Linked DNA regions of Homo sapiens: region 2 is linked to region 1. The links come from fine-mapping of genetic effects on gene expression. A gene starts in region 1. The other region holds a variant in brackets. All regions are shown on one strand. Distances are from middle to middle. Region 1 holds the start of LINC02716 (long intergenic non-protein coding RNA 2716). Region 2 holds the start of SLC35C1 (solute carrier family 35 member C1).

The links.
Region 2: its variant is fine-mapped to the expression of LINC02716 in visceral fat (GTEx, PIP above 0.99). The same link has a PIP of 0.9 or more in cerebral cortex.

What each region holds. Positions count from the first base shown.
Region 1 is chr11:45,766,789-45,775,112 of GRCh38, forward strand. LINC02716 (long intergenic non-protein coding RNA 2716) reads left to right here and starts at 4,644. Exons shown (of 2, transcript NR_027134.1): 1 at 4,644-4,926; 2 at 5,205-5,570. RefSeq lists an enhancer at 4,336-4,837.
Region 2 is chr11:45,802,559-45,810,866 of GRCh38, forward strand. SLC35C1 (solute carrier family 35 member C1) reads left to right here and starts at 2,591. Exons shown (of 2, transcript NM_018389.5): 1 at 2,591-3,778; 2 at 8,218-8,308. The coding sequence starts at 3,244. RefSeq lists enhancers at 1,386-1,545, 4,810-4,869 and silencers at 1,716-1,885, 2,616-2,845. The variant G/A (reference allele first, on the strand shown) is at 4,584.

The sequences.
Region 1 (8,324 bases):
TCTCTCCTGTTAGACCCGAACAAGGACGCCATCGTGCTCCAATGAGGGTCTGAGAATACATGGATAAGCAGACTGTTTCTCCCACTATACACTCACAGTGGGCTTCTTACACCAGATGGGTGTTTGGGGAGGCGTTCCCACATAGTAAGCAAGCAATCAATTACGCAGCAGACACCAGTTCGGTGTCCTCTAATTCAGTTCACTTCCCCACCTGGAGATAGCGTCAGGTTCCACAGGCTAAGGACTCAGTCCCCAAGATGCTCCCCTTCTCCCGATGCCAATCACAAGTCCCAGAGTATTTTAGCTGTGCTTCTGACCAACTGACTATAATTGAGGTTCCCACAATCCCCTCATTGGTTGGATTAATTTGCTAGAGCAGCTCACAGAACTCAGGGAAACACGTTGACTCACTTATTATAAAGGATACCACAGAGGACACAGATGGGCAATGCATAGGGCAAGGTATGGGGGAGCAGAGCGCCATCCTCCAGGAGCCCCGTGTGTCCAGCTGTCCAGAAGCTCTCCAGACCCTGTCCTTCAGGGTTTTTATGGAGGCTTCATTACACAGGCGTGATTGATTAAGCCATCGGCCATTGGTGATCAACGTAACTTCCAGCCCCTCTCCCCTCTAAGAGAGAATGGGAGTGGGGCTGAAAGCCCCAGTCCTCTAATCCTGCCTTGAACTTTCTGGAGTAGCCCCCATCCTCAAGCTACCTAGGGGCTGCCAGCCAACTGTCAACTCATTAGCATACAAAAAGACACTTACCACTTTGGAGATTCCATAGATTTTAGGAGTAACATGCCAGGAAATGTGGACAACAACTCAATATGTATTTTACGATATCACAAAGGGGAGCCAGCCTCCAGATGAAACCAGCAAAATGGGACCCAGAGTGGAGAGACAAGGACACTGGTCCAGGGGCTACTGATTCAAGCCTCACCTGAAACCCACATCACCTCCAGACTTCTGAGCTATGTGAGCCGCTAATTCCTTCTTGGGTTTAAGCCAGCGAAGTTTCAGCTCTCTACTCCTTGAGACTGAAAGAGTTGACTAACTCCTGTGAGGCTGGATCCATGAAAACAAAGGCTGTCATCATGATCAGGGCTCTCATCCTATCTCAGCTCCATTTCCCTCTGGGTTGGTTTTGCCCTTAGGCAGGCCCTGCTTTCCTAGTGACAAGATAACACCTAAAATCCAAATTCAGCTTAGCAATCCCCCTGGAAAGAAAGTATGTCTTTTATACCAGTCAGGTGTCTGCTGCACCAATGCCATGCAACAAGCACTCTGAAAATCTCAGTTGCTTATAACAACCATTCCTTTCATACTCATGGGTCTGCAGGTTAGTTGGGGGGTTGTTAATATCAGAGTTAGGCTGGACTCCAGTCTCTGGTTAGGTTCAATTTGCCCCACAGTCTCCATCCTGGACTCCAGATGAAGGTGCCATGGTCGCCTGGGTGTACCTTCCTTTCTCATGGTGGGCAGGAGCTCTAGAGGGGCAAGCGGAAACACAAGATACTTCTTTAAGGCCTAGCTTGGAACCCACACATCATCACTTCTACCGACATTCCATTGACCAAAGCAAGTCAGTGGCTGAGCTCACCATGGATGGTGTGGGGAAGAATATTCACCCACAGTGAACCATGCAAGGGAGGGAGGGAATGAAGAAGCCTCAGCAAAACTCCATCAAACACGTCTTCCTCAACAGTGCCTCAAAGATCTTGGAACTGACTCATTGGCCTGGCCTGGGGTCAATGCCTGAGGGAGGTAGGAGTAAGGGTACAGCTAGGGGTCTCCCATATGGGAAGAAGGGTTATTTCCCAAATGGAAGTCAAGGTGTTGCTGACACAAGAAAGGGCAATGGATCCCACATAGGCAATGAATAAATAATTACATAAACCAGCACTCAGCAAACGGCAACGTGAAAATAAATCACCTGAGATGCTATTACAATGCAGATTCTGAGAGCCAGGCATGGTGGCTCCGACTGTAGTCCCAGCTACTAGGGAGGCTGAGGCTGGAGGATCTCTCAAGCCCAGGAGTTCGAGGCTGCAGCAAGCCACAATCGCACCACTGCACTCCAGCCTGGAAGACAGAGCAAAATCTCATCTCTTTAAAGAAAAAAAATTCATTTAATAAAAAATAATGCAGCTTCTGATTCAGTAGGTCCAGGGTGGGGCCTGAGATGCTGCATTTCTTTTTTTTTTTTTTTTTTTTTGAGACGGAGTCTTGCTCTGTCACGCAGGCTGGAGTACAGTGGCGTGATCTCGGCTCAGTGCAACCTCCGCCTCCCAGGTTCAGCAATTCTCCTACCTCAGCCTCCTGAGTAGCTGGGATTACAGGCACGCACCACCATGCCCAGCTAATTTTTAGAGACGGGGTTTCACCATGTTGGTCAGGCTGGTCTCAAACTCCTGATCTCATGATCCACACGCCTTGGCCTCCCAAAGTGCTGGGATTACAAGCGTGAGCCACCGAGCCCAGCTGAGATGCTGCACGTCTAAACAGTCCCAGATGATGCTAGCAAGGACCAGTAGCAATGAGCAAGACTGAAATTGGGAGAGTCTCTCAGCCTTCTGATGCCACATTCTCATTTACAAAATGATAATTCCACCTGCCACACAGACTTTTCTCAGCCAGGAAGATGGTGCCCTCGGGGGGATAAGGTGATGCGACATTTGTGCTGTCACTCACCTCCTGCCTGCCCCCTGCACCTCGAGGCCTCCCTCAGCCCCCAGGAAAGGACTCACAGCCCAGCCAGCAAGGAGACAGGAGGAAGATATCACAAAGTGAGTGCAGCTTCTGTTAACTGCCTTAAGCTGCTCCCTGCAATAATGTTGGTGTAATCCATAAGATTCAATTATGGTTATCAGACAATTAGGCACACCACAGCGAGGTTATTGCATAATTAATGCTCAGTCCCCATCTCAGCCTCTGAGAGTGACACAGGTTACAAGATTCACCTGCCCCGCATCTGGGAGAGGAGCAGGGGCACCCAGGATGGGGAATGACCTCCCTGTGGGCTCAGAGGAGGATGTTCTTAGGACCCCAGAGGCATGGCAAAGGGACAGTGTGTGGCTGAAAGAGCTTGAGTCAGTGTGTGCCCAGGGCCCTCACGCCTGCCATTGTGTTTAGGACTTGGGCTTTAATCTCTGGAGCGAGATTCAAATCCTGCCTCAACTACTGATTGGCTATATGGCATTAAGCACTCGCCTTACATTTTTAAAGCCTCCATCTCCTTGTCTTTTAAAGAAGGGAATTGATGATGTTATGAAAACTGGATGAGAGAGTTTGCATATTGGTTAGATGGTTCCTGCAGTACTATTTTCATTATTTCCCTCTCTGAGCCTCAGTGTCTTCATCTGTAAAATGGGAATAATTAGCCTCACCTTGCCTAGGCTTGAAAGATCAGCCGGTAGTTTGAGACCTGCCTGGGCAATATAGCAAGACCCTGTTCACCACAAAAAAGGAAAAAAAAAAGGATGAAAGATCAGTTTGTGAGTCAAGTAAGACACACATGTGAACGGGATGTGTGGAGTGCTTTGCTAACGCGCCATTGTCTTAGTTACTATGTGCCTGGTTTTCTGCTCAACCCTCCAGGGTACGACTTTGTACAAGTCCCCAGGTCTCAACAGGACAGTGGGTGATCAGCCCACCTGAGAAGTGAAACTCATGATTTGGGTGAGTAGACTAGAGGAGAATCACTTCTTTCTTTCTTTTTTTTTAGACGGAGTCTCGCTGTGTCACCCAGGGATCTCAGCTCACTGCAACCTCTGCCTCACCGGTTCCAGTGATTCTCCTGCCTCAGCCCCCCGAGTAGCTGGGATTACAGGCACACGCCACCACACCTGGCTAATTTGTTATTATTAGTAGAAACGGGGTTTCACCATGTTAGCCAGGCTGGTCTTGAACTCTTGACCTCAGACGATCCACCTGCCTCAGCCTCCCAAAGTGCTGGGATTACAGGCATGAGCCACCATGCCCGGCCTGAGAATCATTTCTTGAGCTATGATCTGTAACATTCAAATGAGCCTCAACGGACACAAAACAGAAAAATCATCAAAAATGTCGGTGAAAAGTTCAGGTGGGAGAACTCAGGTGATGGTGCAGACAGAAGCAAGTAGGGGAGAAAGCTGGCTTCAGGGAGAGTGGTTAGGCCTTTGTGAGAAAGACTGGGGACTTCTCATATCATCCTCTGTGTCCCAGTTCCCAAAACACACACGCACATGGGCACATGCATGCAGGCACACAAAAACAAGCCCATACACCAGACGAAAAAATACAGATGCAGGTACACACACATGGACATGGACATGTGTGTGCCTGTGCCCATATAAACAAACATTAGTGCACACACACACTCACACACACACAGGCTCGGGCAGTATGTGCTCACACACAACCATACACACAGATACGCACAGAGGTACATTCACACACAGACCAACACACACAGGCACACAGATGCATGCACGCATGCACGTGCGCGCACACACACACACACGTGCACCCACCCTCAGTGATAACCTTCCAATCCACTGGCCTCTCCGAAATTAGCACAGACCATTTTCCCACGACCCTTTCTCGCTGAGCGTGTGATTCCAAAACTGTCCACAAGAAGGTGCTCGGGAGCCAGAATTCAGGCGTTCCCGGCCCGCGGACGCTTAGAGAGGGGAGCTTCGGAGTTATGGGGGGACCCACCCTTCCATTTAATAACTGAGAAAGCCACGGGAGGGGACTTGCTGGGCTCACAGCCAGTGATCCCTGCCCTGTTTCCTTATGGGGACTGCGGTCAGAAATGGGGAGTGGGGCAGAAACTGTCACTGTCACGGTCCTGTTTAGAGAGGAAGGTCGGAGAAACCAGTGCCGTGGAAGGCTCTGGGGCGTTGACAGGCGCTGTCCCCAGCTCACCGGCTCTATGACCCTGGGTAAGTTACCTGGCTTCTCTGTTCCTCAGTTTTCTCGTCTTCCCTGACCCAGGCTTTCCCGACTCCTCTAGGGGCCCCTTCCCCTCTCCATGAACACCTTCAGATCTCGGACTGTTTTCTCCACTCAAGTGGCATCTCAGCTATCCCCTCCCGGGTTAGGCCTCCCTGGCCCCTATTTAACGGTGTCCCCACCCCCACCACTATCTTGTTTGTACCAACACTTGCTGCCTGACAATGCACACTTGTTCATTTGTTCACGTTTATTTTGTCTTCTCCAGAAGAATGGAAACTTCGTCAGAGCAGGGACGTGAGGGTGAACTGCTCACCCGGGCACCGCTGGCGACCGGAACCCAGCTCCCTCCGGGCTCCGGGAGAGGCGGCCTCAGCTGTGTGCTGGTGCTGCCCTCCAGCGGCGCTGGGTCCCCATGGCACCTGGCTTTCTCCTGCTCCCCAGGGGCCTTTTCTTCTCCCGCCCACCTGTCACCAGCCGCCAGGGCAAGTCTCTGTGTGACTCTAGGGTGAAGGTGGAGGGACCTTGCCTCCGAGGATTCATCCCACCCGGATTCCGATGAGTGAGGGACCCTCTCTGGCACCTGGTGTTTGAATGGCCAGCCTCACAGTTAATAAAGACAAGTTTGGTATCAGCTGTGGGATCCGTCCAGAAAAAGACACCTTTGGGGCAGAAATATAATGGTGCCTGTCTCGACATAGTCTAATAAGGAAAGAAAGACAAGCCAGTCCAACGGTCCCATTTTACACATGAGGTCACTTCATCCCCACCTAGGACAGGAGGGTACAACGGCCTGGCCTAAGATAACCCTAGAATATGGTCACTCATTCTTCCACCCACTGAGAACCTCAGGGCAGTAGAGTTTTATGCAAAGCATGTGGTCCTGAAAAACTTGCATAATTCAAAGCGTGCATAATTTCTGACTAATTTTGCCAGAGAAATGAATGCAAAGTAGAAAGGATAGGTTGCATACATTACTCCAATTGTGGCATATTTTTGCCTTAATGCTGCTTTTTATTTCCCTGGCATTATCGCTAATATTTCATAACGCACTCTCTGCTAAATTAACAGTGCAGCATTTCCTGCCGGTGGTTTGGCCTTCTTCATAACGTTTTATCACATCTCACTTCCTTTCCAATGTTATCGATTTTCAGGTGCGTTTTTCAGCACCACCACTTAAAGAACACTTGGATGACATTGTTACAGGATATGGGTAAAATATTTAAAGTTATAATAACTGTGAACATTGAGAAAATGGCACACCAGTCACCAGAATCTCCTGCAGAAATTAGAAATTCAGAGGCATGTAAACAACAGTGCATGCATATAGAAAGCAGGTATTTCTATTTAATAACCAAAGCAACGTCGCCATGTGGCAGGTTTACAGTCCTCATTTAACAGCTCACTTAGTTCCTCCGACTCAAGGAAACTGCAATTCTTGACAGGTTTTTTTTTAACTGAGGGGCTTGGCATTATTTCCAGCTTAGTGCATAAACATGTATTAGCATTTTTATATTGCACCTTGCCAAAGTCACAGTTTAGACTCCCATAAACAGTGACTTCACCCTAAATGGTCACCCTAAATGGTTAAGGCTGTGTCCTTAACCCCAGAAGGGTGGAAATGTATGACTCCACCTAGTCATCTCAGATACGGATTTCAGAAATCTCAGCCACCCACCTCATACTTACACAGGGACCTTTTTGGAGGCAGCATCATCTGAGGCCGCTCTTGCCCAATTTGGCTGGCCCCACCTCCTCCCCAACGTCATCTTCTCTTGCAGTCTAGAGAGGGGGGCTACTCCCCCAATATAGCATCCATATTTAGATCCATGTTGGAGGGTGGGTAGAAAGGGGAGGTAGGATGAGGGAAAATTGAGTCTCAGTTTCACACATTTGTAAGATCGTCAGACTTTCCACATTGCCAAGAAACTCGTCAGCACAACCGCTGTGAATTGGCTTCTTGGCCTTCGTCTGCCCAGAATTGCTTCCAGAATGGCTCCTTCAGCTTGGCCTGAGCTTGGCCCCAGAAAGAGTGCCACGGGCCCTAGGAAGGAGGAAAAGTGGGGCATTCAGGGCAGGCTCTGAACCCACTTGGATTCCAGTCCTGATTCCATTTGCATGTGACCTTGAGCAAGTCTCTATGCAAGGCACTTCACCTTTCTGGGCCTCAGTTTCCACCTCTGTCAAATGGGGATAATAATACCATCTACTTCCCAGAATTGGTGCCAGAATGAAAAGCAGTCCCTGCTGTGATAGTGTCTAGAACAGAGTAAGTGCCCAATAAATATTCCTTCGCTCTTGTTGCAGTTAGAAAAGCGACTGGATGAGGCGTACATTTACTGGTACCCTGGGATGTATAAGGGCCAGTGTCCGGGTGAGGCGATCCTGCCCCTCGGAGAATTTATGGTCCAACTTTGGAGAGTGAACCTGCCCTCCCACTAATTCAAGAATTCACCAGCCAGGAGAACTGCATGTGGAATTGCCCGGTCCAGCCCTGACTTTGCGCAAGTGTCCATCAAGTCTCCTTCTGCCTCTGGGCTGCCTCTGAGACTTGAGGGGGAGTAAACAGGAGCCTAGGGGTCTCTCCACCCTCCAGGTGCCCCATCAGGCCGGCACCTCCCCACCAGCCCACCCCTCCCCTTGCAGCAGCAAATCTGCAAATGTGCCTTGCAAGCATGTCCAGTGGGCCAGAAGCCACACTCATCCTCCCCACCCCTTCAGAGGACAGCAGAGGTGCCTGGCCCAAAGGCGGTGGTTGGAGCCTGGGCTTCCTGCCTGGGGTGGGGTGGAGAGGGATCTGCCTTCTCTTCTGGGCCCCTGCCCCCCAGGTTTTTCTTCCTCGATACTCACGTTCCTTTCCCTGGACAATCCCTTGCTCTATGAGGGCCTCAGCTTTCCCCTCTGAAAAATGGGCAGCCTGGACTTCTCCAGCTCCTCCAGCTAAGACATTCATCTCCCTATCTCCACACCAGCCTCGCCGCCAACACCCCGGTCCCTCTCTCTCTCCTCTGCTGTTGTGGGGGCCTGTCCCTGGGGTCACTGAGGCTACTGCTGGCTGGGCTCCCAAGCACCAGAGAAGGACTCCACAGAACAATAGCAGAAGGAAGGGGGCCATTCTTCAGGAGGAGAGAATGAAATGGCCTAGCTCAGCCATGCCTGCCCTAGGTCCAAAGCCCCCAGCTCCATTCCTGCCTCTTCTGCCATGTTCCCATGTTTCTACATATGCATGTCTCCCACCAGACAAGGTGGTCCTGAGAGCAGGAGACACCCAGGCTATCCTCGCTGTATGCCTAGCACCTGGGTGCTGGGACCTGTTTCCTGGTCGGACAGAATGGGCGCCCACCCAGCAGGTGCAAGGATGGTAATGTTTTCCCGGCCTGTAGCCTGA
Region 2 (8,308 bases), 36 kb after region 1:
TCCATAGAGAGCCCACACTGTCCCCCACACACGCAGCACTGACTGCCCCTGGGCCTCTCTCAGCGAAGTGCATCTGGCCTATATACAAGATATATCTCTTCCCTCCAGTTCAAGGTGGCAGCAGTCATCAGACAAGTTCCTGCTAATGTGCTAAGGAGAAGGCCCTTCCAGATCACCAGGGCCTCTCAGGGACAAGTTTGCCCTGTCTGTCACTAAATTGTTTGTCATGGTGAACTCTCGGGCATAAGAGAGGAGAGACTGGAACAGATACGAATTGCTCTTAATGAACCAAAACCCACAGCTTCAAAGGAAAATCCCAGAGGTAGACTCTCCAGGTGGGGTTGAGGAGACCAGCTCAGTCCCTCTTGAGTCTTTCTTTCCCCAAAGGGATATTTTAGTTCCAAAAGTGACAAGGTAACCAGATGGTATCCTCCAGGTGGAGAACAGCCCACAACTAGGAAGCAGAGTCTCATTCCTTGAGGAGGAAGAGGGGAGTGCTAGTACCCGGGGCTAGTGGAAGAGGGTAGGGTGTGGGCCCGGCTCGTTGTGGGGCAGCTGTTTACTTCACTGCAGCCTGCAGCCCTCCCATTTCCCTACAGCCCACCCAGGGCTGCGCTCAGCTCCAGTGAAGGTTTGTGCAGTTAGGATCTGAGAGTTTAAGCGTACTATATAGGTTTTACCTTTTTATTCTGGAAATTTGCAAATGTACACAAAAGTAAGGAAACTCTTATAATGGGTCCTTGTGTATCTACGCCTAGCTACAACTATCAATGGCTTATCTTATTTAATCTATCAACCTTTTAAAAAAAATCTTTTTGAGGTCAGGCACGGTGGCTCACGCTTGTAATCCCAGCACTTTGGGAGGCCGAGGCCGGCGGATCACCTGAGGTCAGGAGTTAGAGAACAGCCTGGCCAACACGGCGAAACCCGGTCTCTACTAAAAATACAAAAAATAACCGGGCGTGGTGGTGGACGCCTGTAATTCCAGCTATTCGGGAGGCTGAGGCAGGAGAATCGCTTGAACCCGGGAGACGGAGGTTGCAGTGAGCTGAAATAGCACCACTGCACTCCAGCCTGGGCGACGGAGCGAGACTCCGTCCCAAAAAGAATAAATAAATAAAAATAAAAAATATTTTTGGTAAGTATTCTTAGTATTTTAAAACAAATCCCAGCCATGACATCATCTTACCCGTTAATTAAATGGCACTAATTAAATGGTGCTTGAAATATTACAAACATCTATGTTCGACCATACCACCTAGAGTTCTGGGCAAGAAGGTTGGGACCCACAGGTCAAGCCTAGCCCCTTAGTTTTACCATGAAGATAACTCAGGCCGTCGGAGAAAGTGGCCTGCCCAACGCAGGTGCTAGAGCGCGAACCAAGAGAAGTCGATCCTCCTGGTCTCCCCGGCTGCCTGGTGAGTGGCAGACCACAGGCTAGACTTCCCAGGCCCCGGCCCTGGAAGGGGCGGGGAACCCTCCCCCTCACTGCCAGCTGGAAGAATCCGAGCGGTCCCCGCACGCACTTCTGGAAGTGCAAGCCGGTAGCGCGGCGGGCCAGGGATACAGCCAAGTCCCGGGACGTGCCAGCTGCGGTAACTGAAGCCGGGTCCCGGGCGGGCGGGGGTACCAGGGACAGGAGTAGCCTTGGAAAGAGGAGAGGGCCTCCTCCCACGACCGTCCGGATCACCGCCTCTCCGCCGGCACCCCCGGGGCCCATGCCGCGAACAGGCCGGCGAGGCTGGCAAGGTGCCCGGGCCCGGGGCGGAAAGCAGGAAGTCGATCCCGCGGGCGCGGCCCAGGGTGCGGCGCTGCAGATGCAGCACGGGGTCGCGGGGCGGGCGCCCAGTGCACCGGAGGAGGTGAGCGCCAGGTCGCCTTCGCGGCCCGGGGACACAGGCAGGGACGCGGGAGCTGATGCGGCTGGACCGGCCGGGGAAACAGTATTTTCTGGAAGGGGTAAGAGATGCTGTCTTGAGCCTTTGGAATCTCGGATCCGGGCCGCCCAGAGGACCTCGACAGGAGCACAGGGAGGACAAACTGAAGTCCGAGAGAGGCGGCGTGGCCTCCGGCCTCGGGGAGCGCTGCCGGGGGTCTCGGGCTTGGGAGAGGGCCTGGGGGCGGTGAAAATGGGGGGAAAGGAGGGGACCACAACATTGTTATGGAAGAGTGAGCTCGGATTGGCAGAGGGACGCGGGGCTGCAACGCGAGTCTCCGGAGGTGGAGGGGTCCAGGCTGATGTAGCGCCGCCCGGGTCCTGGGTCGGGGTTCCGGGAAGTGGACCTGCGAGCCAAGCCTAGCCAAGTCGGGGGACGGAGGCTCCGGGGCGGACGGAGCTGAGGGTGGGCAGGCGAGGTTGATGGAGCCCTTCCAGGAAGCAGGGCGAGGCTCAAGCACCCAGAAAAACCTGTGGCTGCCGAGGTCCCCCGCCAGCAGCGGGCAGCGGAGCGCAGGGGCGGGGCTGGGGACTGGCGAACTCCGCCTCTCTGGGGCTGTCGCTTTAAGGGCAAGGCGGGGCGTGCGGGCCCTTTAAGGCCACGTGGGGGCGTGTCAGGAAGTGAGTCCAGGGCCCGCCTCCCGGGGAGTCGGCCTCGGATGTCCGGAGGCTCCTGGGCTGAGCCGGCGACAGAGCCCGGGAAGGCAGCGAGACGTGGGCGCCGGCCCAGCCCCCTCCCGCGTCCTTCAGCCCCAAGCCCCGAGCCCCTCTGACCCTTCCGCAGCCCTCCCTCCAGCCGCGCCCGGCCTCCGGCAGCTCCCTGTACGCCTCCCTCCCCCTGCCCGCCCCTCCCTCCCACAGCCGCCCATGACGCCCTCTCGGCACCTCTTCCCACTCTGCCACGCGTCCTTTTCCTGCACCTTCGCCCCGCGTACCTACTCCTGCCCCGCCCTGCCATTCCTCTCCCCTCCCTTCTCTCTGCGACCCCTCCCTGTTAGGCCCCAGCCTCTTCTCCCCTCACAGGTCTTCTCTGTCCTGGCCTCACCGCCTTATCCTATTCCTCTCCCTTGCCCTGTGTCTTGTCTCAGAGCCCCCTCGGGGTGGGAGTAGGTTGTGGAGCAGCACAACTGGGCTCACCCCAAAGCAGAACTTCTCAATCCATGAGGACAATGGGGAGGCCTTTAGGCCAGCCCACATGTGACAATGGAGGGCTGCGGCTTCCTTGCGGAGAGCACAAGTGAGCTCACTGCCCTGGACTCCAGGGAATCAGAGTTCTGGCCGCGGGGTGACCCAGCTCCTCTGCTACCATGAATAGGGCCCCTCTGAAGCGGTCCAGGATCCTGCACATGGCGCTGACCGGGGCCTCAGACCCCTCTGCAGAGGCAGAGGCCAACGGGGAGAAGCCCTTTCTGCTGCGGGCATTGCAGATCGCGCTGGTGGTCTCCCTCTACTGGGTCACCTCCATCTCCATGGTGTTCCTTAATAAGTACCTGCTGGACAGCCCCTCCCTGCGGCTGGACACCCCCATCTTCGTCACCTTCTACCAGTGCCTGGTGACCACGCTGCTGTGCAAAGGCCTCAGCGCTCTGGCCGCCTGCTGCCCTGGTGCCGTGGACTTCCCCAGCTTGCGCCTGGACCTCAGGGTGGCCCGCAGCGTCCTGCCCCTGTCGGTGGTCTTCATCGGCATGATCACCTTCAATAACCTCTGCCTCAAGTACGTCGGTGTGGCCTTCTACAATGTGGGCCGCTCACTCACCACCGTCTTCAACGTGCTGCTCTCCTACCTGCTGCTCAAGCAGACCACCTCCTTCTATGCCCTGCTCACCTGCGGTATCATCATCGGTGAGTGGCAGCTGGGGCCACGGGGGATAGAGTGGTCATGGGGACTGAAGCAGTGAAGAACAACTCTTCTAGGCATCCTAGGACTTCATCTGTCCCAGCTCCTTTGGTGCAGCAGTCATAGGAGAAAGAGCCTGGGGGCACAGAGAGAGCAAGTAACTTACTAAAGGTCACCCAGCAAGTTAGGAGCCCAGCCGGGGCAAGAACAATAGTAATAATAATAGTAACAACAGCAGCAAAAGCAACTGACATTTGTTGAGTGATTAAAATGTGCCAGGCACATGGATCTTAGCCATATTAACTCAGCTAATCTTCATAACAAGATGGGATTATAATCCACATTTTACAGAGGGAAAAACCAAGGCACAGAGAAGTTAACTAACTTGTCCAAGATCACCCAGCTAATAAGTGGCAGAGCTGGGATCTGAACTCAAGCAATCTGGCTTCACAGTTCACATGCCCGACCACTGTACTTTATTGTTTCTCAAGAGCTCAGGTGTCCTGATTTCCCAGCCAGTGCTCTTAGTAGAGGACAATACGTCTTTTAATAAATATACCATCACTCTCTGCCAGCTCAGGATAGCGCCTGAGACAGTAGCAAGCAATATGCTTTGAGAGGCCTCAGCTGTCTTCCTGGACTTGACCCTCAGAAAATAATAATTATTGATGGGGAAATTATGCTAATTATTTCACATATAGCATCTCCTTTGTTCTCCCAGAGATCCCCTGGGTTGTGGCATCACTACCAGCGGTCATCTCTATACAAACAAGGAAACTGAGGCTCAGAGATGTTACATTACTTGCCCAC[G/A]GCCACACAGCTAGCAAGCAGCCAGGCTGGGATGCAAACCCAGATTGGCCAGACTCCCAGGCCTGTGCTTCTATCCCCTCTGCTCGTCTTGGAGGTTAGAACTGCAGTATTCAATGCAGTAGCCATTGGCCACTTATTTAAATTAGTTAAAATTAAGCAAAATGTTAAACATTCACTTCCTCATTTGCAGATGTTACAACCTGATTTTCTAGCCACATTTCAAGGGCTCAGTAGCCAAATGTGGCTGAGGGCTATGGTATGGGACAGCACAGGTTAGATGGGCCCATATTTTACTGGGCCCCATGCTGCGTTAGAGAGCCTCCAGCATCCCATTCCCTCCGAGTCTTCCCAGGGCTGCGTCATCTAGGAATGGGGTCTTCATTTGAACCTATGCTGGTTTTTCCTGGTGCTATAAAGTTTATCTTATTTGGCCTACATATCATATTCTTTGCTGATGGCTCAGGGTCCCAGGCTAGATGCACCGGTTGGTGGGGGAAGGGACCCATCCCATGCCACCTGTCCTAGAAAATGTTTCCCCTTGTTGAGCAGCTGCTGGATCTAGGGCTGCTGGGTCTAAGTCCAAGAGGGGAGAAGGGAGAAGGTCACAGTTAGAGTAGGGGAAGCTGCAAGACCCCCCCTGCCAGAACTCTCCCAGCCTGCTTCCATTTCCCTCTCCAGGGAACAGGTGTACCTCCCCTCCTCCCTGTCCTCCTCAGATGCCCCAGGGCTCTCTACTTCATTCCTGCTGACCCTGCCAGGAGTGGCCTCAGGGGTAGAGGCTCCTAGTTGGAGAATTTGCTTGCAGGAAGGTGAAGACACTAGGGTAACTGGGCCCAAATCCCAAAGGTAATCCAAGTAACCAGTGGTGAGGTTCTGAGAATGGTGCATTCACGGGCGTGCCTGACTGGGACAGGGGCCAGGGAGGTGGACGCTCTCTGCCAGCCCAGGACCTGGCTCCCTATCTGCAATGTTTCCTCTTTCTTCCTCCTTGTAGGGGAAGACGAGTCTCAGGCAACTATTCTAGGCCTCCCCTCCTAGCCCCCCATGTCACACAGTAACTTTCAAAGCTCCTTCTGGGCCAGGCACAGTGGCTCATGCCTGTAATCCCAGCACTTTGGGAGGCTGAGGCAGGTGGATCACCTGAGATCAGTAGTTCGAGACCAGCCTGGCCAACATGGTGAAACCCTGTCTCTACTAAAAATACAAAAAATTAGCCGGGCGTGGTGGCATGTGCCTGTAATCCCAGCTACTCGGGAGGCTGAGGCAGGATAATTGCTTGAACCCGGGAGGCAGAAGTTGCATTGAGCCAAGATCGCGCCACTGCATTCCAGCCTGGGCGACAGAGCAAGACACAGTCTCAAAAAAAAGTTCTTTCTGGGCAAGAGTCGCTCTAGAACATTGATGTTGCAGTTGCTTCTGGACTCAGAAGGTAACCACCAGGAGGGCTAGGGGTGCTGTAGCCAAGCAGGTGAGTGGGTGGTGCAGCCCTCTGCCCCCCTCACCCTACCCCCAGCAGGTCTGTGGGTACCCCTTGTGCAAAGGTTCTGTCAAGAAAGAGGAGGGTCGGGCTCTGTGGTTGGGCTGGGCATGGTGGCTCATGCCTGTAATCCCAGCACTTGGGGAGGCTGAGGCGGGCAGATCACCTGAGGTCAAGAGTTCAAGACCAGCTTGGCCAACATGGTGAAGCCCCCTCTCTACTGAAAATACAAAAATTAGCCAGGCATGGTGGCGCATCCCTGTAATCCCAGCTACTCAAGAGGCTGAGGCACGAGAATCGCTTGAACCCAGGAGGCGAAGGTTGCAGTGAGCCAAGATCGCACCACTGTACTCCAGCCAGGGTGACACAGCGAGACTCCGTCTCAAAAAACAAAGAGAAAAAGAGAAGAGTGCTGTGTGTTGAGTGCCTATGATGTAGGAAGTATCCTGTCTCCTTTAATACAACCACCTCCATAACAACTTTCATTCATTCATTCCACGACTAGTAATTGGTGGCTAAACACATGCCAGGCACCATGCCAGGCTTTGGGGATACAAGTTTGGAAAAGGTAACCTCAGCTCCTACACTCCTGGAGGGCATGGTGGTGACAGTTACGCTAGCATAGTAAGGGCTGTGATGGGGCATGCATAAAAGGGGCTGTGGGAGCTCTGGGCAAGGGAGGGGACCCGGGGACAGGGCAGTCTAAGCAGGCCTTCTGGAGGAAGTTTAGAAACTGGGTTTAGAGGAAGAAGTAGGGACAGAACATTCTAGATAGAAGGAAGAGCACGTGCACTTCTTCATGGCTGGGCCACAGCAAGACTCACCAGACACAAGGCTGCCCAGTCAGGCCGACTCCACGTGGTGCAGGTCCTAAGAGCTGTGGTGAGTGAGTGGAATTTCTCCTGAAGGCAGTGGAGAGCCACAGAGAGGCTTCACACCAGGGCACAGCCTGGACCGATCTGGACTTCAGGATGATCATATCAGTTGCAAGGTGGAGAGTAGATTGGCTGGAGTGGAGGACAGGGAGGTGACCCAGAGAGCTCAGAGTGGTTAAGTAACTTCTCCCAGGCCACTCAGCTTCTAAATTGCAGAGCCTGATTGGAGGCTAAATCCCTCTGACCCCAAAACTTTCCCCACTGCCCCGTGTTGCCAGATGCTGTGGCAGGAAGTATAACATGCATTGTTCAGCCCCTGGCTTCTGGGAGCATGGGATCTGGCTAAAAAGACCAGACTGTCACCATGGGCAGGGGCCCAGCAGCCCAGAGCAGGCAAGGGGCTTTGCAGGAAAGCGAGGCAGTAAGAGTCCAGGTTCTGGGATTATCAGGAAAGGATTCCCCAGGAGAAGCCAACTTTGACCTTGACAGATGAGTAGAATCCCCCAGAAAGGAGGAGGGTGTTTCTGGCACAGGACATGAACAAGGACACTGAGGCCCAGGGTGAGAAGCAGGGAGACGAGCAGGGAAGCTGGGGCGACCATAGGACAGAGGAAGGGCCTGCACCCCCGCCTGCCACGCCAAGGAGTGTAGTCCTCATGGCAGAAGTGGGGAGCCACGGAAGCTCTTTGAGCAGGAAGTGACACAAGATGAGAGTCTCAGAGTCACTGCCCCAAATGACACAAGAGATTCTAACTTAATGTGCCCCATGATGACATCATAGGCTCCCATTCCATGCAAGAAGCAGCCAAGGCTTAGACACTGGAAGTCATTTACGCAGGGTCACCTTAAATCACATTAACCACTAAGTGGCACTCATTCTTCAGAACTCAGTTCAACTGTTATTTTCAGATGCCCCAGGCCAGCACAGTCGCCCACTTACAGGCTCTCACAGCACCTTGTACTACTTTATGGACCTCATTACAATTCTTACAATTGTAATTAAAGAAGTAACTGGGAAGATTTGTTTTAATGTCTTTCTCCTCTGCTAGCAGATAAGCTGCCAGAGGAGGTTTTCTTGCCCTGGGCGGCTCCCATAGTTCATGTGGAGTGCTTTGCCTGCAGTGGAGACTCTGGCTGTGCTTATTGGAGGGAGGCCTGGGGAGGAACGGGGAGGGCCGCAATACTCAGTCTGTGAAATTTGGTGTCTGATCCTCTGTCCTTCTTCCTCCTCGTCCTCATCCCTCTTCCTCACCCTTCCCCACTCCTCCTCTCCCCACTGCAGGGGGCTTCTGGCTTGGTGTGGACCAGGAGGGGGCAGAAGGCACCCTGTCGTGGCTGGGCACCGTCTTCGGCGTGCTGGCTAGCCTCTGTGT